Homo sapiens: one gene and its partners. The protein of the gene in region 3 interacts with the protein of the main gene of each other region in a pairwise test. Each region holds a gene or a part of one and is shown on either strand. Other genes may lie near its edges.

Region 1 (3,500 bases), on a different chromosome or scaffold from region 3:
GAAATCTAAGTCATCATTCTCTGGTACCCAGTTCAAGTCACTCCACCACCTCAGCATTTAACTGTTAACATTCCCTTTCCCCATAAAAGCTCCGTCCCACCGGCTTACTTACCTGGCCGGACAATGACAGCAACCTGGGGCGTCTCCCCATTAGCTTGAGGCTCCAGACCGCCTCCCGTCTGCAGGACACAAAGGGTTACCAAGTTTGCACTGAAGAGTCCCACAACCCTTCTTTACTAGAGCCATTTCTACTTTAGCTCTGCCTAGAAATCCAGGAAAGCAGGGAAATAAATCCCTTAGTTGAAAGAAAAGATCCAGGGACTTGGGAGTCCAGGGCAGAACAGACATCCCAGCCAGGGTATCACTCGAAAAGCAGACAGTACCTGGGGAGGGGTGGGTGTGGAGGCAGTGCGGGCCCCAGACATGATCTCCTCTGTGATATCCTTTCCTCCTTGGTTTGGATCTCGAATTCGGATCTGGGGAAAGAAAGCTATAAGATGAGTGGGAAGCAGGAAGAGCCCACCTCTCCACCCTGCCCCAATCTTAAGACTCTGGGCCAACTCCCCACCCCCCAGCGGGAAGCAGGTAGGTAGGTGCCAGAAACCCCTTGAGTTCCACTTTCAGCCCATCTGGCTGCTCTCGTAGTCCCTGCCCCAGCTCCCACCCTTAAGAGACCCTTGATCTCACAGAGCAGCCCTGTACATCACAATGCCCCTCCCTCCCTCATCCCTACCCCACCAGCAGTCCCCAAGTCAGTGGCTGCACACCCTGGGGCCCAGGACCCCCATCTAGAACCCAATCGGCTCACTTGTGGCTAGTGTGCCTGATCTCTGGGGGCAGGGCCCAGATCCAGTAGGTGGAGCCAGGGTGACTCAGCGGCTTCCCCAGCTCTGGCACCCTATTCTGGGCACCACGCCCAGGGCTTGAGGACTGAGCAGAGGCGGAGGCCTTGAGAGCTTCCAGGACTGGGGGGGCAGGGGGGAATGGGGGCTGGGGCCACAGAAAACAAACCATTTCCAAGGCAAGCCACTAGAAACCCAAAACCAAGCATAGTTCTTCCAACCCCCCAGCACCCAGGTCTCGCAGGAACTTCCTCGCTAGGCACTTCAGTCTTCCCATGACCTGCTTCTATGCTGAAATCTTAGCATCTTACAAAGAACCTGAGCCCTCCACAGACACCATTCTCTGCCCACTCTCAGCTCCTTCCTCCTCAAGTCACTGCTCTTTCCGGCACAATGTCCCAGCAGCACCTGACCTTGATTCTCCCCTTCCCAGATGTCCCGGAGCCCCTCACTGCTACTCACCGTCTTACGCTCCCTCTTGGGAGCAATCTGGGGTGGCTGGTTCATCAAAACTGGGGTGGGGGCCACGCCAGTGGGAAACTGCTGCACCCCTTGGGCTGGATAGTAGGCGCCAGCTTGGGGGAGGGGGGACGGAGAAGAATGGTGGTAGCGTCAGGGCCCAACCATATACTAATGCCTGCCTGACACCTCCCACCCCAAAACCTCTCACCACCCACAGCCGGCCCCTTGCCTTGCCCTGCCCTGCCCTCCTCCCCCAGGGAATTAGGTGTCTGTCAAAGCTGGGGAACCAGTCTGAACTGCGTTTACAAGAATTCCTAACACACACACACACACAAACACACACACACACACACACACACACACACACACACACACCCCTCGTAGGCAGGCACTCTTTCCTACCACACACCAGTGACCAGGAGGACTTATGTCTGTCCTTCCACCGTACAAGTTACTCTCGTGTGTGTACCCCACCCGCTATCAACATGTACACACATACTCTGAACCTGAAACAGAACCAGGTCTTTGGCTGGTAATGAGAGAAAGAGATCTGCCAACCCTGTTCCATTTAACTTGAGTCTAGTTCCTGTCTCCAGCCCTTTACAAAGGGGCAAAGAAACAAAGTAACATTATGAACTAGGCTCAAGATGAAGAAAAATTAATTCCTTAAAGCAAACTATCTCCAAAGTGGGTGAGTTCTTTTTTCCCCTTAATTTTTTTTTTTTTTTGAGATGGAGTCTCACTCTATTGCCCAGGCTGGAATACAGTGGCACAATCTTGGTTCACTGCAATCTCCACATCCCGGGTTCAAGCGATCCTCCTGCCTCAGCCTCCCGAATAGCTGGGATTACAAGAGTGCATCACCAGGCCTAATTTTTGTATTTTTAGTTGAGACAGGGCCAGGCGTGGTGGCTCACGCCTATAATCTCAGCACTTTGGGAGGCTGAGGCAGGTGGATCACTTGAGGCCAGGAGTTCGAGACCAGCCTGGTCAACATGATGAAACACCATCTCTACTAAAAACACAAAAATTAGCTGGGTGTGGTGGCACACGCCTGTAATCCCAGCTACTCGGGAGGCTGAGGCAGGAGAATCACTTGAACCCAAGAGGCGGAGGCTGCAGAGAGCCAAGACTGTGCGACTACATTCCAGCCTGGGTGACAGAGCGAGACTCCGTCTCAAAAAGAAAATTAAAATAATAACAATAAAATTTAGTAGAGACGGAGCTTCACTATGTTGGCCAGGCTGGTCTCGAACACCTGACCTCAAGTGATCCGCCTGTCTTGGCCTCCCAAAGTGCTGGGACTACAGGCGTGAGCCACCGTGCTCAGCCCCCCTCAAATTTTAAAATAGAGACAGGGTCTCACTAAGTTTCCCAGGCTGGTCTCAAACTCCTGGCCTTAAGCAGTCCTCCTGACTCCCAAAGTGCTGGGATTACAAGCAAGATCCGGGCACATTCTTTAATTTCATCCCTAAATTCCACTTGTTTTTGACAAGCACAAGTGTATTTGTTTAAATTTTGCATACATATAAACAAAAACATACATGTATGAGAGATTCATACTCAAAACTTTTCCTGATAGGTGATCAAAAAACTTGGAAGCCACTGCCATAAAGAACAGACTAATCCTTCCCTAGAACATAAATAAAAAATAGCTACAAAAACCTCCCAAATTTGCATTACATGGGCTCCCAACCATGGAAGAAGTGTCACAGGGAAAGCCTACTAATAGGCTCTCAGGCTGGTGCCTGATCCTACATTCCCTGATGTGGGAAAGACTCTTAACTCTCCTGGCAATAAAATCAAATTTTCTCCCCACAATCAACACCAGTTAAATATTAAGCACCAATCCCTACCACCTATTAACCTTATCATTTTTAGACCAGAAGCCAAGCCTGGGAAGGGTCTTCTGCTTTAGAAATCAGCAGATGAGTTTAGATGCTCCCTTGGGCTTGTTCTCACCTCTGACTCCCTCCCCTGCTTACCGTAGGTCCCAAATTCTGTAGGGCTTGCACCTGGATAGAAGCCTGGGGCTCCTGGCTGCACAGGGTACTGCTGTGTCGGGACAACGTATGTGGAACGCCCCTGGTGGGGAAGGGGGAGAGGGAGAGAAGGAGTTGAGGGAGCTATGAGTTCCATATCAGACTCCAAAAAGAACATAGGTCAAGACAAGACAAGCCAACTCTGGGCAATGAC
Region 2 (3,181 bases), on a different chromosome or scaffold from region 3:
GGTGAGACCCTCAATTTCCTGGAGATTGGATATTCCCGCTGCTGCCACTGCCGCAGCCACACAAACCGCCTAGAGTGTGCCAAACTTGTGGTAAGGTTGGGTTCTTGATGCCGGGGGGTGTCCTTTAACCCCAGACAGTATGTGTGTTTTAAGGGTTAGAGCACTAGGCCTGGGTCTGGAGGAACCTCAGGTCCCGTTCACTGGCCCTACCCTGGGCCTCCCCAATGTGCCAGGGGAGCAGAGGACAACCACTGTCTCTTCTTTATCTGCCTGCCCAGTGTCCTTTCCTGGAGCCTGGGAGGAAGGCAGGAATGTGGAAAGTGGGCTGATCCTCCCCTCTTGCTCTAGTGGGAGGAAGCAATGAGCCGATTCTGTGAGGCCGAGTTCTCGGTCAAGACCCGACCCCACTGGTGCTGCACGCGGCAGGGGGAGGCTCGGTTCTCCTGCTTCCAGGAGGAAGCTCCCCAGCCACACTACCAGCTCCGGGCCTGCCCCAGCCATCAGCCTGATATTTCCTCGGGTCTTGAGCTGCCTTTCCCTCCTGGGGTGCCCACATTGGACAATATCAAGAACATCTGCCACCTGAGGCGCTTCCGCTCTGTGCCACGCAACCTGCCAGCTACTGACCCCCTACAAAGGGAGCTGCTGGCACTGATCCAGCTGGAGAGGGAGTTCCAGCGCTGCTGCCGCCAGGGGAACAATCACACCTGTACATGGAAGGCCGTAAGTGGGCGTCCCAGCCTCCCTGAGAGCCTGTTTGCCTGCCTGCCCATCTTCGACCTCTGATCCTGCCAGTCCATCCATCCATGTACCCCCCCTGCTGTGAGTGCGTCCACCCGTTCATCTGCTTGTGGCTGTCCGTCCATCCATTGTGTTTGTCACCTGAGTTTGTTCATCTTGAGCTTCGTACTACACTTCTGGCCTCCTCCACTCATGATCCACACACGCATCTGTCTACCATCCATCCATCCGTCCAGCTCTGGCCTCACCTGACCTTCTCCATCCACTGTTCCAGCTCATCTCCCGGCACCAGCTTGGAACCTCATCCAGGCTTCCACCCGTCCACCTTCCCAAGCCCACACATCAACAGTTGCCTCCTAACCCTCTACTTTTTTGCCATTCCCTTTGGGCCTCTCGGGCTGGGAGCCCCTCATCTAGTTGCCAGGGACGATAAGGGAAGTCGATGGTCAGGAGAGAAGGGGCCAAGTGTCCAGCTTCTGACTTCCCTCTCTCTGGTCCACAGTGGGAGGATACCCTTGACAAATACTGTGACCGGGAGTATGCTGTGAAGACCCACCACCACTTGTGTTGCCGCCACCCTCCCAGCCCTACTCGGGATGAGTGCTTTGCCCGTCGGGCTCCTTACCCCAACTATGACCGGGACATCTTGACCATTGACATCGGTCGAGTCACCCCCAACCTCATGGGCCACCTCTGTGGAAACCAAAGAGTTCTCACCAAGCAGTAAGTTGCCTAGTCCTTCCCCACTCTCTTCCTTTCCCGAAAACTTCCTTTTGGGACACCTTTGGGAAAAGCAAAATCATGATATCCCAACCCCATCTGATGCCAGAAGATGCCCAAAGACCCTAACCCCTGCCCCTTTCACACCAACATAGTAAACATATTCCTGGGCTGATCCACAACATGACTGCCCGCTGCTGTGACCTGCCATTTCCAGAACAGGCCTGCTGTGCAGAGGAGGAGGTGAGTGTGTGGAGTCTAGTCTCCAGAGGAATGCAGGGGAGGGGAGGGAAAGAGCTAGAACTGCAGGCCACCCCTTCTCTTTAGTACCTCAAACCAGCCTTTGGTTATAATGACTAGTGGGGGAGGTGTTTTTTTCTTGGTTCCAGAAAAGTCTTCACTCTGACCTGGCCTGCTCCCCATCTCTAAGTTCCTATTATGCCTTCTCCGGGCCACAAGCTTCTGGCATTTCCAGATGTACACATTTGTCAGTCACAAGGAATCCAGCTGTGCAAGGCAGTCTTGTACTCTCTCTGGGCCCCAGGAGGGGAACGAGGGAGAGAGCAGTAGAAGCTGATGAAAGGGGGACTTTGGCACCCAAGTATCTACATCTGTCCTTGGACCACCTCCCCACCCCATCATCTGTTTTACTTTTCTCATTCATCAGAAATTAACCTTCATCAATGATCTGTGTGGTCCCCGACGTAACATCTGGCGAGACCCTGCCCTCTGCTGTTACCTGAGTCCTGGGGATGAACAGGTCAACTGCTTCAACATCAATTATCTGAGGAACGTGGCTCTAGTGTCTGGAGACACTGAGAACGCCAAGGGCCAGGGGGAGCAGGGCTCAACTGGAGGAACAAATATCAGCTCCACCTCTGAGCCCAAGGAAGAATGAGTCACCCCAGAGCCCTAGAGGGTCAGATGGGGGGAACCCCACCCTGCCCCACCCATCTGAACACTCATTACACTAAACACCTCTTGGATTTGGTGTCCTCATTGTCTATCTAATGTCTCACCCGCAGTGTTTTAAGTGGATCTTGGTGCCCTGGCCCAGGAGGGCACTGGCGTTTTCAGACACACCACAGACAAACACACCCTCCTAAGCCTGCTTGTATTTCCTTCAGTGCCTGGCCCCTGAGGCCCACGGCCCTGCCCCCTTCACTGAGCAGATGTTCACAGGCTGTGGGATGCGACCATAACTAAACAGCTTGACGTCACTTTGCCATCTTGAATTTATTCACATATTTTGAAAGGAGTGCCACCTTGTTAGCTAGCTATCAGGACTCAAAGAAGATATGGTTCTTGGCCTTGGTGAGCCCCCAAAATGCCACAGCCCAGCCTAACATTTTTAAAGCTTCACTTTTGATCCTTAGAATTCATGCCTTCATTCATTCAATATCCTTTTTTTTTTTTTCTTGAGACACAGTCTCGCTCTATCGCCCAGGCTGAAGTGCAGTGGCACGATCTTGGCTCACTGCAACTTGCAACCCTCCTGGGTTCAAGCGATTCTCCTGCCTCAGCCTCCCGAGTAGCTGGGATTACAGGCGTGCACCAGCACACCCAGCTAATTTTTGTATTTTTAGTAGAGACGGGTTTTCACCATGTTGGCCAGGCTCCCAAAGTGCTGGGATTACAGGCGTGAGCCACTGTGCCTGGCCAATATCCATTTATTGAACCCCTATCTATGCACACTCTGCTAGACTTGGGGATACACATC
Region 3 (3,500 bases):
GTTGTGGTGGGATCATAAACTTGGCCCAAAGAGTAGGTATACTCTCCTTGCAGCATGGTGCCCCTTCCACCTGTGCCTCGGGTATACCTAACATAACTGTCCTTGTCCACTGGTTTTGCTAGGGTGACTTCAATGGGGGAACCATCCAGCACCTGTTGTAGAGAGCAAAGAAATATCAACGCGAGATGATATGAAGATAACCAAGTGTGGCTGAGCCCTAATAACATGACTCCTTCTAAGTGTTAGACTATTTGCTGTAGGTTTATTGATTGTATCTTGTCATTTTATAGGTTTGTTTTGTATGCCAGTTGAACTTTTTCTGAGCCATTTTGTTGGTAAGTTGCATAAGATGCCAACAGGTTTGACAGTGACATATTGGCCAGTGTCCATTGACATATTCATTATAAATTTACAATCTGGTTACAGTCACTGAGACAGAAAGTTATGTAATATTTTTATTAGGTCATATATGTGTTTTAAATTACATATTTATATAATTATATAACTACAAGACAATTTAGGTTTGTTATGGATGGTATAAAATCTCCATTACCTTGCACAATAAGATGAAGGTGAAAGGAAACCAATAAAGAAATCTTATCAATTATTAGCATTTAGCATGGGCAGCCAAATCAGGCCCTTCCAGCTGATAGCCCGCTAACTGTCTTGCTCCTTAGAGCAGCCACACAAGTAAGTTTTCACTGGAGAAGAGAGACATACTGTGGCTCTACCAAAGGAAGAGGAATCTGGGAGGCTGTTGCATTGCCTGCCACAGGTTCTTCCTTGTGAAGCCACCTTTTGATCTGCTGAACAGTTGGGAGCTAATAAACAGGGATGACAGGGGTCAGGAGTAGTTGGGAGTGAGAGTAGTATTGAGGTTCTCAGATCATGCACTGCTTAAAACCTGTCCTTAAGAATTCTGACACAAATTCTGAGACTGCAAACAGCTCCAGATGTCAAAGATAATGGATGTATGTAGATCTACGTGTGCTACTAACTTCTATGTATTGCTTGCCTACACAATAAACAATGATGGCTCTCAAGAAATTCTTGATAGATTGATGTATTTATTATCAAAGGAACAAAGTATTGTCTGAAAGCATTTGTGGCTTTGTTTTTGAATAAGAATGTGAAGATCCTCTGTTTTATATAAAGAACACTTTTATGTAAAGTGTTTCTACAGAAATTCCCATTCACAGCAGCTGAGTGTGCACCCTTACCCTCTGATTTCAACAGTGACTCAGTGGTTCCTGGATTATTGAAGTCTGCTGGACAAAGCTTGTGCTTCATGGTCATCCTGACCATTTTGTTCAGCCTCTTGGTCAATTTGTCCCCAGTATTATGTATTTACCTTACTTTTTAGTAGCAGGAGCCAGTGTCAAATAAGTTAGATGGAATACTCTGAGAGACAGACAGAATCCAGCTGATATTCAACAATCTTATATTGATGTTGATGTAATTAGAAAAAGTAGACCTGGCATACTGAAAATAGGGGAGGAACTTGGGTATAAGATTCTTTATATCTTCAGTCCAGTCTTGAGGAAGATGAGAGACCCAAATAGGTCTCTGCTTATAGGCACTTCCATATCAAGAGATGTTTTGCATGGAATGATTCTTTGCGGCAAATTCAGATATCTTGTAACAAATTTTGTTCTGCCTTCCTTTGTCCCATCCAAAAGCATTTTAAATTCAATATTGTATTTTAGTTATTTGGTTTAGATATTTCCAGAGCTAGGACAATATCTTATTAATCTGTATAGCCCAAGCTTAGTAAAATTTCTTTCACTTCATAGACTTACAAAAAGAATAAATGAATAATCATTCTGAAGCTCAATTCATCATTTTTCTCTCTGAATAGGCTTCCCTTCCTGACTTTCATAACAACCTACCATATTGGAAGCTTATAATGACTTGTCCTTCTTTTTCACCCCATCTCCAATCAGTTCCTGCGTCCTTTGAATTTATCCCTTACTGTTCTGCATATGGCTGTCTCCTACATTCCATTCCTACCTAAGTTCAAGACTTTATTTTGTCCCATTTGGTTGACTATAATAGCTTTATAACTAGTTTCTATGACATGTTTCTCTCACCTGTATTAAAAAGTCAGTTCTTACTAGGCTAATTTTCCTAAATTGTAAATGTGATAATTATCGTAGAAAAAATTTCAAGATCTCACTTCATCTAACAAATTAAATATAAATATCTCTATATATGCTCAAAAACCTTCATAGTTCCTAGGAAAACTTACTTTTGATTTTTCCATACCACATTATAGTCAAATATAATATTAAATATATATTTAACTAAATAATATGTGTAAATAATTACTCTAAAAATATCTAGCTGCAAAAATTGGGAATTTGAATATGTTTCAATTGTAATTATTCCAACGTAATTTTTGGCATTTAATTTGTGATGGCTGTTCCTTCCCAGCAATCATCATGTATACTCAGGAATGTTTCCATATAGAGAAAATCTAACTTACAAATTGTTTTCCAAGTAATAACACTTTTATGATACTAAATGTGATCATCAATGAAGATGAAATAATGCTTTTCTTTATAGACATGTATTTATGCATTAGTTTTTCTTTGCAGTTTTCTTTTTTGTATTTCAGAGTGAATACTTTCTCCACCCCACCCTCCAGTATTCAAACTTTTTGAGTTTGAGTGGGCCCCTGAGGAGCTAATATGCAAGAGGCTCCACAGTGTCTGAAGGGCCTAGGCTAAGAGATCCTCCCTTTGCCATCTGGATCCACTGCCTATGGAATTCACCACCTACCAGCTCCAGCCTGCTCTCTGCTCTGGGAAGCTGTTCTACATGGGGTCCTCTTTAGCCTTCTAGATTGTGATTGCATTTAGCCAATGGGGAACACTGGTAGGAGGTTGGAGAAGAGACAACAGTGAATTCGGGGCATTTATTCTGCTGGACCCGTCTTTGAGAGGTCACCTTGGGCTGACTGTGTCCTTTGACCAAAATCACTGCTTCTTTCTTTTCTCTTTTCTTTCTTTCCTTAATGGTGGGGTCTCACTCTGTTGCCCAGGCTGGAGTGCAAAGGCACAATCATAGATCACTGCAGCCTCAGCCTCCTGGGATCAAGAGATCCTCCCACCTCAGCCCCCGGAGTAGCTGGGACTACTGTAGTAGTCCATGCTACCATGCTCGGCTAATTTTTTGTAGAGATGAGGTCTTGCCATCTTGTCCAGGCTGGTCTTGCACTCCTGGGCTCAAGCAATCCTTCTACCTCAGCCTCCCAAAGTGCTGAGATTACAGGTGCGAGCCACTGCACCCAGCAACTTCTTGCAAAGAGATCTGCTCTACACAATTCTCTCCCCTTTCAGGATTTCTATTAATTCTCCAGCCCCTTGTACCTTTGACTCCAGAATGCTGTGAGCCCCAAATTCTGACACTCTTTTTTGATTTCCCTAGTCCCCACTCGCACTTTTGTAATTAATTCCTTTGCTATTTGTTTTCTTTTGGGACCCTGACCGATGCCAGAT
Region 4 (2,713 bases), on a different chromosome or scaffold from region 3:
GAGCCAGGATGACAATGGCGGCTTTGTGGAATAGAAAGGCAGGAAAGGTGGGGAAAAGATTGAGAAATCGGATGGTTGCCGTGTCTGTGTAGAAAGAAGTAGACATGGGAGACTTTTCATTTTGTTCTGTACTAAGAAAAATTCTTCTGCCTTGGGATCCTGTTGATCTATGACCTTACCCCCAACCCTGTGCTCTCTGAAACATGTGCTGTGTCCACTCAGGGTTGAATGGATTAAGGGCAGTGCAAGATGTGCTTTGTTAAACAGATGCTTGAAGGCAGCATGCTCGTTAAGAGTCATCACCACTCCCTAATCTCAAGTACCCAGGGACACAAACACTGCGGAAGGCCGCAGGGTCCTCTGCCTAGGAAAACCAGAGACCTTTGTTCACTTGTTTAGCTGCTGACCTTCCCTCCACTATTGTCCTATGACCCTGCCAAATCCCCCTCTGTGAGAAACACCCAAGAATTATCAATAAAAAATAAATAAATAAATAAATAAATTTAAAAAAAATAAAAAAAAATAAAAAGTCAATCAATTAAAAATAAATAAATAAATAAATAAATAAATAAATAAATAAAAGATTGGGGACAAATAAACACTGTAACCTAATCCCATACATGTTACTGTGGAAACAAAAAGTGAAAATAAAACCTAATTAATGTTCCAATAAAAAAAAAAAAAAAAAAGAAAAAGAAATTCTTCCAGCTTCCTTCCCAGGGCAGTCTTTCTGTGTCTTTTACATTGGGAATTCCTTTTTCTTTCTTTCTTTTTTTTTGAGACCCTGTCTTGCTCTGTCACCCAGGCTGGAGTGCAATGGCATGCTCTTGGCTCACTTCAGCCTCCGCCTCCTGGGTTCAAGTGATTCTCCTGTCTCAGCCTCCCTTGCAGCTGGGATTACAGGCACGTGCCACCACGCCCGGCTATTTTGTATTTTTTGTAGAGATGGGGTTTTGCCATGTTGGCCAGGCTGGTCTCGAACTTTTGACCTCAGGTGATCTGCCCGCTGGGGATTATAAGCGTGAGCCACTGTGCCTGCCCACCCCCCCTTTTTTTTCTTTCTTGAGATAGGATCTCACCCTATTTCCTAGGCTGGAGTGCAGCAGAGCAATCATAGCTGACTGTAGCCTCCAACTCACGAGCTCAAGCAATCCTCCCACCTCAGCCTCCTGAGTAGCTGGGACCACAGGTGCTCACCACCACGCCTGGCTAATTAAACATTTTTTTTTTGTAGAGATGGGGTCTTGCTATGTTGTCCAGGCTGCTCTTGAACTCCTGGGCTCAAGGGATCCTCCTGCCTCGGTTTCCCAAAGTGCTGGGATTATGGGGGTGAGCTACTGTGCCTGGTGGGGAATTCTTGACGTAATTCTCCTGGATTGAGGAGACACCCTCCTCACCACTCACCACTCACCCACGCCTCTGCTGGAGGATGTGACTGTGTCTGAATGGACAGGAAGAAAGTTCCCATGTGGGCTTTGGATCTTGGGCTATCCCTTCACCTCTCTGGGCCTCAGTTTCCCAGCTGGCACAGAGAGGATGATTATCTAACATCACAGGAAGGCTGGTATGTGTGTTTGAAGTGCCCTACAGTAAGTGCCGGCTGAATGGCCTTGTCACCTCAGGTCCAGGCACCTATAGTGTGCGTGCCCAGGGTGGCCCCAAGTGCACTGAGAAGGAGAGATGGGGAAGCCCAAGTGACTGGTCTGGGAAGGTTTCCTGGAGGAGGGGGTAAGGAGAAGCAGGGTGTTGCTGATAGAAGGGAGCGCAGTGAGAGGAGAGGCTCCGGAGCAGGGGAGACTGTCACCCATGGGCAGCCTGATGGGGCTGAAGGGCTTAGCAAGCACAGGTTGGGCTAGGAAGTCCGATCCTGGCTGCTTCACCCAGTAGAAAGTTCCTGTCTTCTTGGGCCCAACTTCGACCTTTCCAGCTGACCCCATCCGTGTCCCTGCATTTGTCAGCCTTCAGGGCTCCCCAGATGCCTGCCCAGACCTGCCCAGGCTTAGCCACAGCCTCTGCTGGGCCTGGCAGAGACGGGAGGGAGAGGAAGCATTTTTACCTCTATGATTTCCTGTCCTGCAGCCAGCCAGCGCCTCCTCGTTCTCATGCTCAGCCCCTCTCCTTTCTGCCTTAGGGTGCACCCCATGTGGATTCCTCACCTGGTCTTGGAAATGCCTCTCTTCTCTACATTCATGGAGCAGGACCAGGCACAGTGGCTCATGCCTATAATCCCAGCACTGTGAGAGGCCAAGGCGGGCGATCACTTGAGGTCAGGAGTTCAAGACCAGCCTGGCCAACATGATGAAACCCCATCTCTATTAAAAATACAAAAATTAGCTGGGTGTGGTGGTGGGCTCCTGTAATCCCAGCTACTTGGGAGCCTGAGGCAGGAGAATCTCTTGAACCTGGGAGGTGAAGGTTGCAGTGAACTGAGATTGTGCCACTGTACTCCAGCCTTGGTGACAGAGCAAGACTCTGTCTCAAATTAAATAAATAAATAAATTCTGGGAGCAGTGAGCACTCACGGCTCTCGTGGGGCCACCTCTGACCAGGCCCTGTGCTCTCTGGCCCCTTCCTGGGCCCCAGTGGGTTGGAGATCAAGGCCCAGAGGGCAGGGTCTGAGCCCTCTGCCCAGAGCAGAACAAAGCGCTGAGCAAGAACACAGCAGGAGACGGGAAACACACCTGCCCGGGCAGCGCAATGTGCAAAGTTTACA
Region 5 (3,500 bases), on a different chromosome or scaffold from region 3:
ACTGAAAATCACTGATCAAACTGAATACATGTTCTGAAAACGAGGGCAATTAAAAAAAAATCATCCCACATTCTATACATAAAGAACTATCATTTCTTTTTAAAAATATTTGTCCTCTCAGGCCAGGCACAGTGGCTCACGCCTGTAATCCCAGCACTTTGGGAGGCCGAGGTGGGCGGATCACGAGGTCAGGAGATCAAGACCATCCTGGCTAACACGGTGAAACCCCGTCTCTATTAAAAATACAAAAAATTAGCCAGGCGTGGTGGCGGCCGCCTGTAATCCCAGCTACTCGGGAGGCTGGGGCAGGAGAATGGCATGAACCTGGGAGATGCAGCTTGCAGACTGCACCACTGCACTCCAGCCTGGGAGACAGTGCGAGACTCCGTCTCAAAAACTCTGCAAGAGAGCAGAACAAGGTTCTTATGAATTATTCAAATGGTTATATCTTGTATGTTAAAAATTTTTTTATAAAATCCATATATATCTAGTCTGTTTCATCCTATAATCACCTACCTGTGAAACTTGATTTTTTTTTTTTTTTTTTTTTTTTTTGAGACGGAGTCTTGCTCTGTCACCCAGGCTGCAGCGCAGAGGCACGATCTCGGCTCACTGCAACCTCCGCCTACCGGGTACAAGTAATTCTCCTGTTTCAGTCTCCCAAGTAGCTGGGACTACAGGTGCCCACCACCACGGCTGGCTAGTTTTTGTATTTTTAGTAGAGATGGGTTTTCACCATATTGGCCAGGCTGGTCTTGAACTCCTGACCTCAGGTGATCCACCTGCCTTGGCCTCCCCAAAGTGCTGGGATTACAAGTATGAGCCACAGCACCCAGCCAGGAACTTGATTTTATCTTCATATTCATCTGACAACTTTTAGGTCACAGGGTCTTTGTCGCCTGGGCTGTAGTGCAGTGGCGCGATCTCAACTCACTGCAGCCTCGACCTCTTGGGCTCAAGCAATCCTCCCGTCTCAGCCTCCCAAGTAGCTGGGACTACAGGCATGTGCTACCACGCCTGGTTAATTTTTGTATTTTCTATAAAGCTAGAGTTTTGCCATATTGCCCAGGCTGGTCTTGAACTTCAGGACTCAAGTGATCTGCTTGCCTTGGTCTCCCAAAGTGCTGGGTTTTACAGGCATGAGCAGTCGTGCCCAGCCTCCCCAGTTCTAAATTTTTTCTTGTTGTGGCCCCTTTACAATTCCTCTACAGGTTACTTTTGCTACATATAAACTCTTCTAGCTTCTTCAACTTTCAAATCATTTTTGCAGAGGGCAATGCCTCAAAGTGACAAAATGGAAACCTATTTCTATGTTCTTCCTCAAAAATCTTATTTATGGTTGAACTTAAAAGTTACAGTAGCTCTGTATCTCAAAAGCCAAAGGTTATGATTGTAATATGTTTAAATAGAAAAACCTTAGCCAGGACCGGTGCAGTGGCTCACGCCTGTAATCCCAGCACTTTGGGAGGCCGAGGTGGGTGGATCACTTGAGGTCAGGAGTTCAAAACCAGCCTGGCCATGACCATGACCAGAGATGTGGTGAAACCCCGTCTCTACTAAAAAAAAAAAATACAAAAATTAGCCAGGTGTGGTGGCACACGCCTGTAATCCCAGCTATTCAGGAGGCTGAGACAGGAGACTGCCTCAAAGGGAAAGAAAAAAGAAAAACATTAACCAATAAACTACTGACTAATAATTCACATTAGTTATCAGCTGTTTTGTCTATGGCATTTTTTTGCAAACAAATACACAAGAAAAGCCAAAAACAATGTATGAAGTATTACTGACAATAATATTTAACCTGAATCAAATCAATTATTTATTTATTTTATTTTTTTTTAAATTTTTTGAGATGGAGTTTCACTCTTGTTGCCCAGGCTGGAGCCCAATGGCGCGATCTCAGCTCACTGCAACCTTCACCTCCTGGGTGCAAGCGATTCTCTTGCTTCAGCCTCTCAAGGAGCTGTAATTACAGGCATGCGTTACCATGCCTGGCTCATTTTGTACTTTTAGTAGAGATGGGGTTTCATCATGTTGGTCAGGCTGGTCTTCAACTCCTGACCTCAGGTGATCCACCCGCCTCAGTCTCCCAAAGTGCTGGGATTACAGGTGTGAGGCACCGCGCCTGGCCCAAATCCATTATTTAAATGTAACTTTGCGTTTACAAGAAATACAGCAATAAAAGAACAAATTAAGTATCACCACAAAGAAATAATGAGATAAATCCAGAAGGTGGGACATTCTAGAAGGAAATAATCAAATGCAGAATATGGAACATTCTATAAAACTAATAGAAGTCTCTTTAAAAATGTCAATGTTCGGCTGGACGCGGTGGCTCACGCCTGTAATCCCAGCACTTTGGGAGGCCAAGGCAGGTGGATCACCTCAGATCAGGAGTTCGAGACCAGCCTGACCAATATGATGAAACCCAGTCTCTACTAAAAATACAAAAATTAGCCGGGCGTGGTGGTGGGCACCTGTAATCCCAGCTACTCAGGAGGCTGAGACAGGAGAATTGCTTGAACCCGGGAGGTGGAGGTTGCAGTGAGCCGAGATGGTGCAATTGCACTCCAGCCTGGGCAACAAGAGCAAGACTCCGTCTCAAAAAAAAAAAAAAAAAAAAAAAAAGTCAATGTTGGCCGGGCATGGTGGCAGGCCAAGGTGGTAGGATTGCTTAAGGTCAGGAGTTCAAGACCAATCTGGGAAACAGAACCGATCCCTCTAAAAAATTTTTAAACAGAAAGGATAATCATATTATATTCATGTAGGAGAATGTATTTATTCCTAGGAAATGCACAAAATATTTAATAGAAATATCTTGAAAGTGACTTTCAAGGGGTTAAGCAAATACATAGATATTTGGCTTTTTTTTTTGAGACAGGGTGTCATTCTATCCCCCAGGCTGGAGTGCAGTGGCACAATCACGGCTTATTGCAGCCTCAACCTCCTGGGCTCAGGTGATCCTCCTGCCTCAGCCTCCCAAGTAGTTGTCACTACAGGTGGGCTATTTTGATATTTTCTTATAGATACTAGTATGCCAACTTTCAAAAAATATTTGGCATGGGCCAAAACATTAAAAATCATCCTGTCACCAGGCGCAGTGGCTCACGCCTGTAATCCCAGCACTTTGGGAGGCCAATGCAGGCGGATCACAAGGACAGGAGTTCGAGACCAGCCTGGCCAACACAGTGAAACCCCGTCTCTACTAAAAATACAAAAATTAGCCATGCGTGGTGGCTGGTGCCTGCAGTCCCAGCTACTCGGAAGGCTGAGGCAGGATAATCGCTTGAATTCGGGAGGCAGAGGTTGCAGTGAGCCAAGATTGTGCCACTGCACTCTAGTCTAGGCAACAGAGCGAGACTCTGTCTTAAAAAAAAAAAGTCACTCTGTCTAGGTGGTGGATAGTTTAAGTGTTCCTTGTAGAATTCTTTCACCCTTTTCTTTTTTCTTCTTTTTGTGATGGAGTCTCGCTCAGTTGCCCAGGCTGGAGTGATCTTGGC
Region 6 (3,500 bases), on a different chromosome or scaffold from region 3:
CCTCCTAACATTAAATAACAAGACCGAAATGTTATCTTGGAGATTGGCTGGGAGAGGCACCTTTTTTTCCCATTCAAATTGAGTCCCTATGTAGTGTCAAAACAAGTCATTCAAACCATATTGACTGGTTAGCACTTTATAGCTTAATATCTATAGCTAACGTCAATATGAAGTTCTGAGATAACCACTTCAGAGATATCTGCCTCCCACGTGAGACCTAGCAGAAGGGTTTCCCCCAAGATTCCCCAAGAAGGGTAAAGAAGGCAGTATTCAGAAGTAAAATATCACACTCCTAAAGTGAGTTAAATATATTTAACTGCTTGATTTTACATCATATTCATAATACTGAATGAAAAGACCATTCACTGAAAATGAAAATGCATTTAAATCCTTGCAGAAGCATATGTAAGTTTTTTATATCTCCATTCAAATATTAAAGGACTTACACACAGTATATCAAAACAAGCCCCAGGAGGGACTTTAGGCTCAAAGAATGTGCAATCAGTCCCATGCAAACCTTTTCTAAAGACATAATAGAGAAAAAAAAGTATTCACTTTCTATAATAACTAAAATTCAAAATATGCATCTGCAGAATGAACTGCTGCTACATATAATAACATGGACGACTCTCAAAATGATTATGCTGAGTGAAAGAAGTTAGACCAGAAGAGCACATACTGTATGATTCCATTTATATGAAACCCTAGGATATGTAAAGTAATATACAATGAACGATAGCAGATCACTGGTTGCCTAAGAACAGGGATATATGGTGGATAGGAAAGGCAGGGGGGACATTATCTTGTGATGATGATTCCAGGGTTGTATACATATGTCAAAACTTGTCAAATTGCATACTTTAAAAGTACAGTTTGTTGTACATAAATTATATGTCAATAAAGCTATTTAAAATGTATGCAACTTTACTTTTATTATCCAAATTGTGGGGGAAAAGGTAAATAGACACTCAACTGTACTTGCAAGTAGGGGAGTTAATAGGGGTGTGAAGATGTTTTCCATTAAAAAATAATAATAATGTGTCCCTTAATCACTTTAGTGCTGACTAAGGCTTATCCTGTTAGAACGCAAGCAATCCTGAGAAATGGTAACACAGTGGGCCTTATCAGAACAGTATGGAGAAGAGGCCTTTAGAATCCTACCCCAGCTACTTCTTAACAGTAAGACCAAGGAAATGTGATTAAAATTAAAAATCTCTTAGTTTCCTCCTCTGTAAAATAGGAATAATCATAATAGCACCTACCTCATTGGGTTGTTGTGAAGATGACAGATTATATGTGCTAAATTCTTACGAAGTGTCATATATACATACACATTCAATAAATGTTGTCTACGTGAAAAAATGCTCATCATCACTGGCCATCAGAGAAATGCAAATCAAAACCACAATGAGATACCATCTTACACCAGTTAGAATGGCGATCATTAAAAAGTCAGGAAACAACAGGTGCTGGAGAGGATGTGAAGAAATAGGAACACTTTTACACAGTTGGTGGGACTGTAAGCTAGTTCAACCATTGTGGAAGTCAGTGTGGCGATTCCTCAGGGATCTAGAACTAGAAATACCATTTTACCCAGCCATCCCATTACTGGGTATATACCCAAAAGATTATAAATCATGCTGCTATAAAGACACATGCACAAGTATGTTTATTGCGGCACTCTTCACAATAGCAAAGACTTGGAACCAACCCAAATGTCCAACAATGATAGACTGGATTAAGAAAATGTGGCACATATACACCATGGAATACTATGCAGCCATAAAAAAGGATAAGCTCATGTCCTTTGTAGGGACATAGATGAAGCTGGAAACTATCGTGAGGACAAAAAAACCAAACACCGCATGTTCTCACTCATGGGTGGGAATTGATCAATGAGAACACATGGACACAGGAAGGGGAACATCACACACCAGGGCCTGTTGTGGGGTGGGGGAAGGGGGGAGGGAAAGCATTAGGAGATATACCTAATGTTAAATGACAAGTTAATGGGTGCAGCACACCAACATGGCACATGTATACATATGTAACAAAGCCGCACGATGTGTACATGTACCCTAAAACTTAAAGTGTAAAAAAATAAAAAATAAAAAAAAATGGTGTCTATTATTTCAGATGCTTTCTTGAAAACAATGATTTAGTGATACTATGGTGGTATCCCAACTGTCACTCTAAAGGACCTTATAGAAGAGCAAGGCAAACAACATATATTATTAGACTACAGAAGGAAGGAAAGCACTAACAAAATTCTGCGGAAATAAGAGCGAAAGAGTCAGGAATGCCCAACTGTGTCAGTGGAAAAAGAGCGGTTAATGAAGCAAAAGAGCGGAGGAAATGAAGAGGAAAAAGGTAGGTATTCTAGGGAAAAGGGAACAGTGTGTCCACAGAGGAGGGTTTATTTAAGAATCACCAATGTAAATGGAACACACTTTCTCTCTTAAAAAGAGAACTAAAAGTCAGAGCACACTTGGCAATGTGGATTTCATTTTATGTGTGATGAAATCAATGAATATTTTGATGCAGGCAAATCACATGATCAGATTTGCATTTTAGAGTAAAAGTTTTAGTCACAGTGAACAGATAGAAAAAAGAAAGCAATGTCATCAGTTTAGAGACCACTATAATAATGTGGGCAATGATGAGGGTATCTCTGATATATGGCAGTGATAAGATGAATGAAGGATTATTTAAAAGATAAAATTGACAGCACCTGGTGCCTGAACAGTAGGGTTAAGAGAAATTAAAGAATCACTGATAGCTCAGAAATTAAAGAATCATTGATGATTCCATGGCTTCTACTTTGGGTTACTGAATAAAGTATTACTGTAACTTTCAATTTTATTCTGTATGGTGTAAACTCCCTGTGTTTGAATCTACTACCTATTTGTTTATTCAGAAGATGAAGAGCCAGAGAAAACTGACTTTAACCTAAACAAGTTCATAATCCTTATTTCAGTTTTACTCAAAAACATAAGATATGCAGATGAGTATTTCACGATTTTATCCTTGCATATTTTAAAGATTTCAAATTCACATTGCAATTTCAAATATTTCATACCCTTATATATCCTTGTAGGAGTATTTAAGAAAGTATATTTTCCTCTTAAAAACTGTTAAAATCAACATTACTTTTTAAGTCACATTTTAAATAATTTATGTGGCTGAAGTAAAGGCCAAATAAATCCCTGCCCACTACTTATTTAAAGGTGTCTTGGTGGGAAACTGATATAAAATGACATCGTTAATGATAAGTGTTTAACTTTGGGAAGAGAGAGTGTGAATAAAACTGCTAGGTTCATAGTGAGCATTCAAATATTTCACTGAGGCTGGGCATGGTGGCTCATACCTGTAATCCCAGCACTTTGGGAGGCCAAAGTGGGTGGATCACTTGAGGTCAGGAGTTCCAGACCAGCCTGGAAAACATGGTGAAACCCCATCTCTACTAAAAATACAAAAAATTAGCGGGATGTGGTGGCAGG
Region 7 (3,500 bases), on a different chromosome or scaffold from region 3:
GGAGCTCAGTCTGAGGGCAAGGGGCTTCTTCCTTGGGGGCCTGTGGGCACACCCCCTTTGCCCAGTACTGTTCTTGCCAAATCACCCCTTGTTCAAAGCAGGGAAGACTGGGTCTGTAGGGGAGGCCTCCCTAAGAGGCATCTACTGGCATTTTGGTCCTCTCAAGCTGAGGGTGGTCTAGCCTGTGCCAGCCTTAGGGAGCTGGCCCCTTTGCACTGGGGCTGAGCCACATGTCCTTGTAGAGGGTGCAGTTTGGGATGTACGCGCTCTACAGCAAGAATAAGCCTCGCTCCGATGCCCTGATGTCAAGCTATGGGCACACCTTCTTCAAGGTAAGTGAACCTGAGATTAGGAGGAGTAGGGGATGCGGGGAGTGCCCCCAAACCACTCAGTGGCCTCCCATCCGCCCACAGGACAAGCAGCAAGCACTGGGGGACCACCTGGACCTGGCCTCCTACCTGCTAAAGCCCATCCAGCGCATGGGCAAGTACGCACTGCTGCTGCAGGAGCTGGCACGGGCCTGCGGGGGCCCCACGCAGGAGCTCAGTGCGCTGCGGGAGGCCCAGAGCCTTGTGCACTTCCAGCTGCGGCACGGAAACGACCTGCTGGCCATGGACGCCATCCAGGGCTGTGATGTGAGTCATCCCAGGGCAAGGGCAGTGGGTGTGAAGAAGAAGGCAGAAGAGGCTGGCCACCCACCAGCCCCCAACTCTGCAGGTTAACCTCAAGGAACAGGGGCAGCTGGTGCGACAGGATGAGTTTGTGGTGCGCACTGGGCGCCACAAGTCCGTGCGCCGCATCTTCCTTTTTGAGGAGCTGCTGCTCTTCAGCAAGCCTCGCCATGGGCCCACAGGGGTTGACACATTTGCCTACAAGCGCTCCTTCAAGGTAGGCCTGCCCACCCCAGGCCCCACCACTTGTTTTCCCGCCCCATGCCTTACCAAGCCCCTCTCTCCCGCTGGCCACAGATGGCAGACCTTGGTCTCACTGAGTGCTGTGGGAACAGCAACCTGCGCTTCGAGATCTGGTTCCGCCGCCGCAAGGCCAGGGACACCTTTGTGCTGCAGGCCTCCAGCCTGGCTATCAAGCAGGCCTGGACAGCTGACATCTCCCACCTGCTTTGGAGGCAGGCCGTCCACAACAAGGGTGGGTCCATGCCCCTCCTTCACGCCACACTCCCCTCACTGGAGAGCTTACATTGACCCACAGGAGCCCAGAGACCTGGGAAAAGCTCGGGAAGTGGGGAGAAGGCCCAGCGACAGCCACCAGTGCAGGAGAAAGGATTTCAAAGCCAGGCAGCCTTGCTGTCACTGCCTCTGACTTTGGACACAACGTGAACTTCTCTGAATATAAGGGGCATCATGGCTCTCTCTCTCTTTATTTTTGGAGACAGGGTCTCGCTCTGTCGCCCAGGATGGCGTGCAGTGGCATGATCTTTGCTCATTGTAGCCTCTGCCTCCTGAGCTCAAGCATTCTTCCCACCTAAGCCTCCCAAGTAGCTGAGACTACAGGCATGTGCCACCATGCCTAATTTGTAAAATTTTTTCATAGAGGTCTCATTATATTGCCCAGACTGGTCTTGAACTCCTGGGCTCAAACAATCCTCCTACCTCGGCCTCCCAAAGTGTTGGGATTACAGGCGTGAGCCACTGCGCCCAGCCAGGGGCCTCATCTTTAAAAGGGGAATATGGCACCTGCCCCACAGGATTGTTGGGAGGAGAGCACCTGGCACTAGAAAGGCTCAGCTCACAGGACAGTTAATGTGCTGGATGGAGGTGTACAGGAAAGACTTATCTGGGGGGTGGTAGAGGCCCAAGGACAGGCTTATGTCCAGAAGCATCCCACTTATGTCCACTCTCCACCCAGAGGTGCGCATGGCTGAGATGGTGTCCATGGGTGTGGGGAACAAGGCCTTCCGAGACATTGCTCCCAGCGAGGAAGCCATCAACGACCGCACCGTCAACTATGTCCTGAAGTGCCGAGGTAGCAGGCAGGCTACAGGGTGTGGGGGTGGGAGTAGGAAAGCTGTGCGGGAAGCACTGTGGCCCTCCATTAGTGCTGGCCCGCACTTTCCTTGGGATCTGGGGCCAGGCTAGGCTCTGGCCTGTCCCAACCTGACCCTCTCTCTTATGCAGAAGTTCGCTCTCGGGCGTCCATTGCCGTAGCCCCGTTTGACCATGACAGCCTCTACCTGGGGGCCTCGAACTCCCTTCCTGGAGACCCTGCCTCTTGCTCTGTTCTGGGGTCCCTCAACCTGCACCTGTACAGAGACCCAGCTCTTCTGGGTCTCCGCTGTCCCCTGTATCCCAGCTTCCCAGAGGAAGCAGCACTGGAGGCTGAGGCAGAGCTGGGCGGCCAGCCCTCTTTGAGTATGTCTGGGCCTAGCCAGAGGCAGGAGGGCATGGCTTGGGGTCTGGGGCTTCCCGTGCTGACAGTTCACCCAGTCTCCCTCCCTAGCTGCTGAGGACTCAGAGATCTCGTCCCAATGCCCATCAGCCAGTGGCTCCAGTGGCTCTGACAGCAGCTGTGTGTCAGGGCAGGCCCTGGGTAGGGGCCTGGAGGACTTACCCTGTGTGAGTGCCATTTGCCCTATACCCACCAGCCCTTCCCCAGCCCAAGCTGAGCCTGTGACTGTGACCAGCCCCTCCCCAGCCCAGGCTAGGCCTTTACTTTGGGTAGAGCTTGGGGTGGGTGGGCCAGAGCCATTCCCCAGACACCTCCTGGGTCCAGAGTCAGGGAAGCAGGCATTCATGCCTGGCCTGGCCCTGCAGGTCTGAGCCCGGGACTGGACGAGCAGTAGATCCAGCAGCCTGCAGCTCCAAGGAACATTGCCTCTCTGGATCTGCTGTGACCAGGGTGTGGCTGACACCTGGGCTACCTCCAACCTACATGTGCAACGCTGTTGACTACCCTTTCTGATGTGTGTGGCCATTGGACTAACTGGCACGGGGCCTCTCTAGGGAAGTCTGGTTGTAGAGCCTGAATAGGCTCCTGGCCCCATGACCCCTTCTCCTGTCCCCAGCTCCCATCCCAGTTGTGGGTTAAGAATAGGCTAGAGCAGACATTGGGTGTTTCCATGCTGTAGGCTGGTGGGGGACCATGTGCCTCTAGGCAGTGACTAGGGTGCCCCCACCCCTCAGGAAGAACACAGGTGGGCTCCTAGCAGCTGATCCCCAATGCCTGGCCTTAAAGCCGAGCTCAGTTACCATAGGGACAGGTCCACCTCTACTGGGCCCTCATGCTTGCCTTTCCTGGCCCCCAGGCCCAGCCCCTTTTTACTGGGGCAGTTTCGTTATTTTGACTTGATGCCTTTTGAATAACTTTCAATAGAATTGTCTAAAATTATCTTACTGGTTGTTAGGCCTTTGGTGTCTCAGAGAAGGAGTCTAGGTCTTTGATGTGTGATTTAATCTTTTATTTGTTTATAATAAAAAATAGACTGATATGTACCCTCTGATGGGCACATGCATTCTGGGCTATCTCCAATTAAAATGAGACTT

Evidence for each region.
Region 1: the proteins of A1CF (region 3) and EIF4G1 interact in binary tests that used the Homo sapiens proteins (3 or more experiments, as listed by UniProt).
Region 2: the proteins of A1CF (region 3) and ECM1 interact in binary tests that used the Homo sapiens proteins (3 or more experiments, as listed by UniProt).
Region 4: the proteins of A1CF (region 3) and METTL27 interact in binary tests that used the Homo sapiens proteins (3 or more experiments, as listed by UniProt).
Region 5: the proteins of A1CF (region 3) and POGZ interact in binary tests that used the Homo sapiens proteins (3 or more experiments, as listed by UniProt).
Region 6: the proteins of A1CF (region 3) and REL interact in binary tests that used the Homo sapiens proteins (3 or more experiments, as listed by UniProt).
Region 7: the proteins of A1CF (region 3) and PLEKHG4 interact in binary tests that used the Homo sapiens proteins (3 or more experiments, as listed by UniProt).

What each region holds. Positions count from the first base shown.
Region 1 is NC_000003.12:184,317,606-184,321,105, reverse strand, and holds part of EIF4G1 (eukaryotic translation initiation factor 4 gamma 1), read right to left. Parts: intron 3,390-3,500; coding exon 3,290-3,389; intron 1,418-3,289; coding exon 1,305-1,417; intron 844-1,304; exon of another isoform or gene 477-843; coding exon 384-476; intron 180-383; coding exon 113-179; intron 1-112.
Region 2 is NC_000001.11:150,511,109-150,514,289, forward strand, and holds the end of ECM1 (extracellular matrix protein 1 isoform 1 precursor), read left to right. Parts: coding exon 1-90; intron 91-348; coding exon 349-723; intron 724-1,243; coding exon 1,244-1,464; intron 1,465-1,616; coding exon 1,617-1,704; intron 1,705-2,128; coding exon 2,129-2,359; 3' UTR 2,360-2,681; downstream 2,682-3,181. UniProt on the Homo sapiens protein: Involved in endochondral bone formation as negative regulator of bone mineralization. Stimulates the proliferation of endothelial cells and promotes angiogenesis. Inhibits MMP9 proteolytic activity.
Region 3 is NC_000010.11:50,816,128-50,819,627, forward strand, and holds part of A1CF (APOBEC1 complementation factor), read right to left. Parts: intron 153-3,500; coding exon 1-152. UniProt on the Homo sapiens protein: Essential component of the apolipoprotein B mRNA editing enzyme complex which is responsible for the postranscriptional editing of a CAA codon for Gln to a UAA codon for stop in APOB mRNA.
Region 4 is NC_000007.14:73,836,804-73,839,516, forward strand, and holds part of METTL27 (methyltransferase-like protein 27), read right to left. Parts: intron 2,235-2,713; exon of another isoform or gene 2,057-2,234; intron 1-2,056.
Region 5 is NC_000001.11:151,449,495-151,452,994, forward strand, and holds part of POGZ (pogo transposable element with ZNF domain), read right to left. Parts: intron 1,455-3,500; exon of another isoform or gene 1,416-1,454; intron 1-1,415. UniProt on the Homo sapiens protein: Plays a role in mitotic cell cycle progression and is involved in kinetochore assembly and mitotic sister chromatid cohesion.
Region 6 is NC_000002.12:60,888,074-60,891,573, reverse strand, and holds part of REL (proto-oncogene c-Rel), read right to left. Parts: intron 1-3,500. UniProt on the Homo sapiens protein: Proto-oncogene that may play a role in differentiation and lymphopoiesis.
Region 7 is NC_000016.10:67,286,032-67,289,531, forward strand, and holds the end of PLEKHG4 (puratrophin-1), read left to right. Parts: intron 1-242; coding exon 243-332; intron 333-413; coding exon 414-635; intron 636-717; coding exon 718-888; intron 889-968; coding exon 969-1,146; intron 1,147-1,866; coding exon 1,867-1,983; intron 1,984-2,135; coding exon 2,136-2,369; intron 2,370-2,444; coding exon of another isoform or gene 2,445-2,457; coding exon 2,458-2,573; intron 2,574-2,771; coding exon 2,772-2,777; 3' UTR 2,778-3,449; downstream 3,450-3,500. UniProt on the Homo sapiens protein: Possible role in intracellular signaling and cytoskeleton dynamics at the Golgi.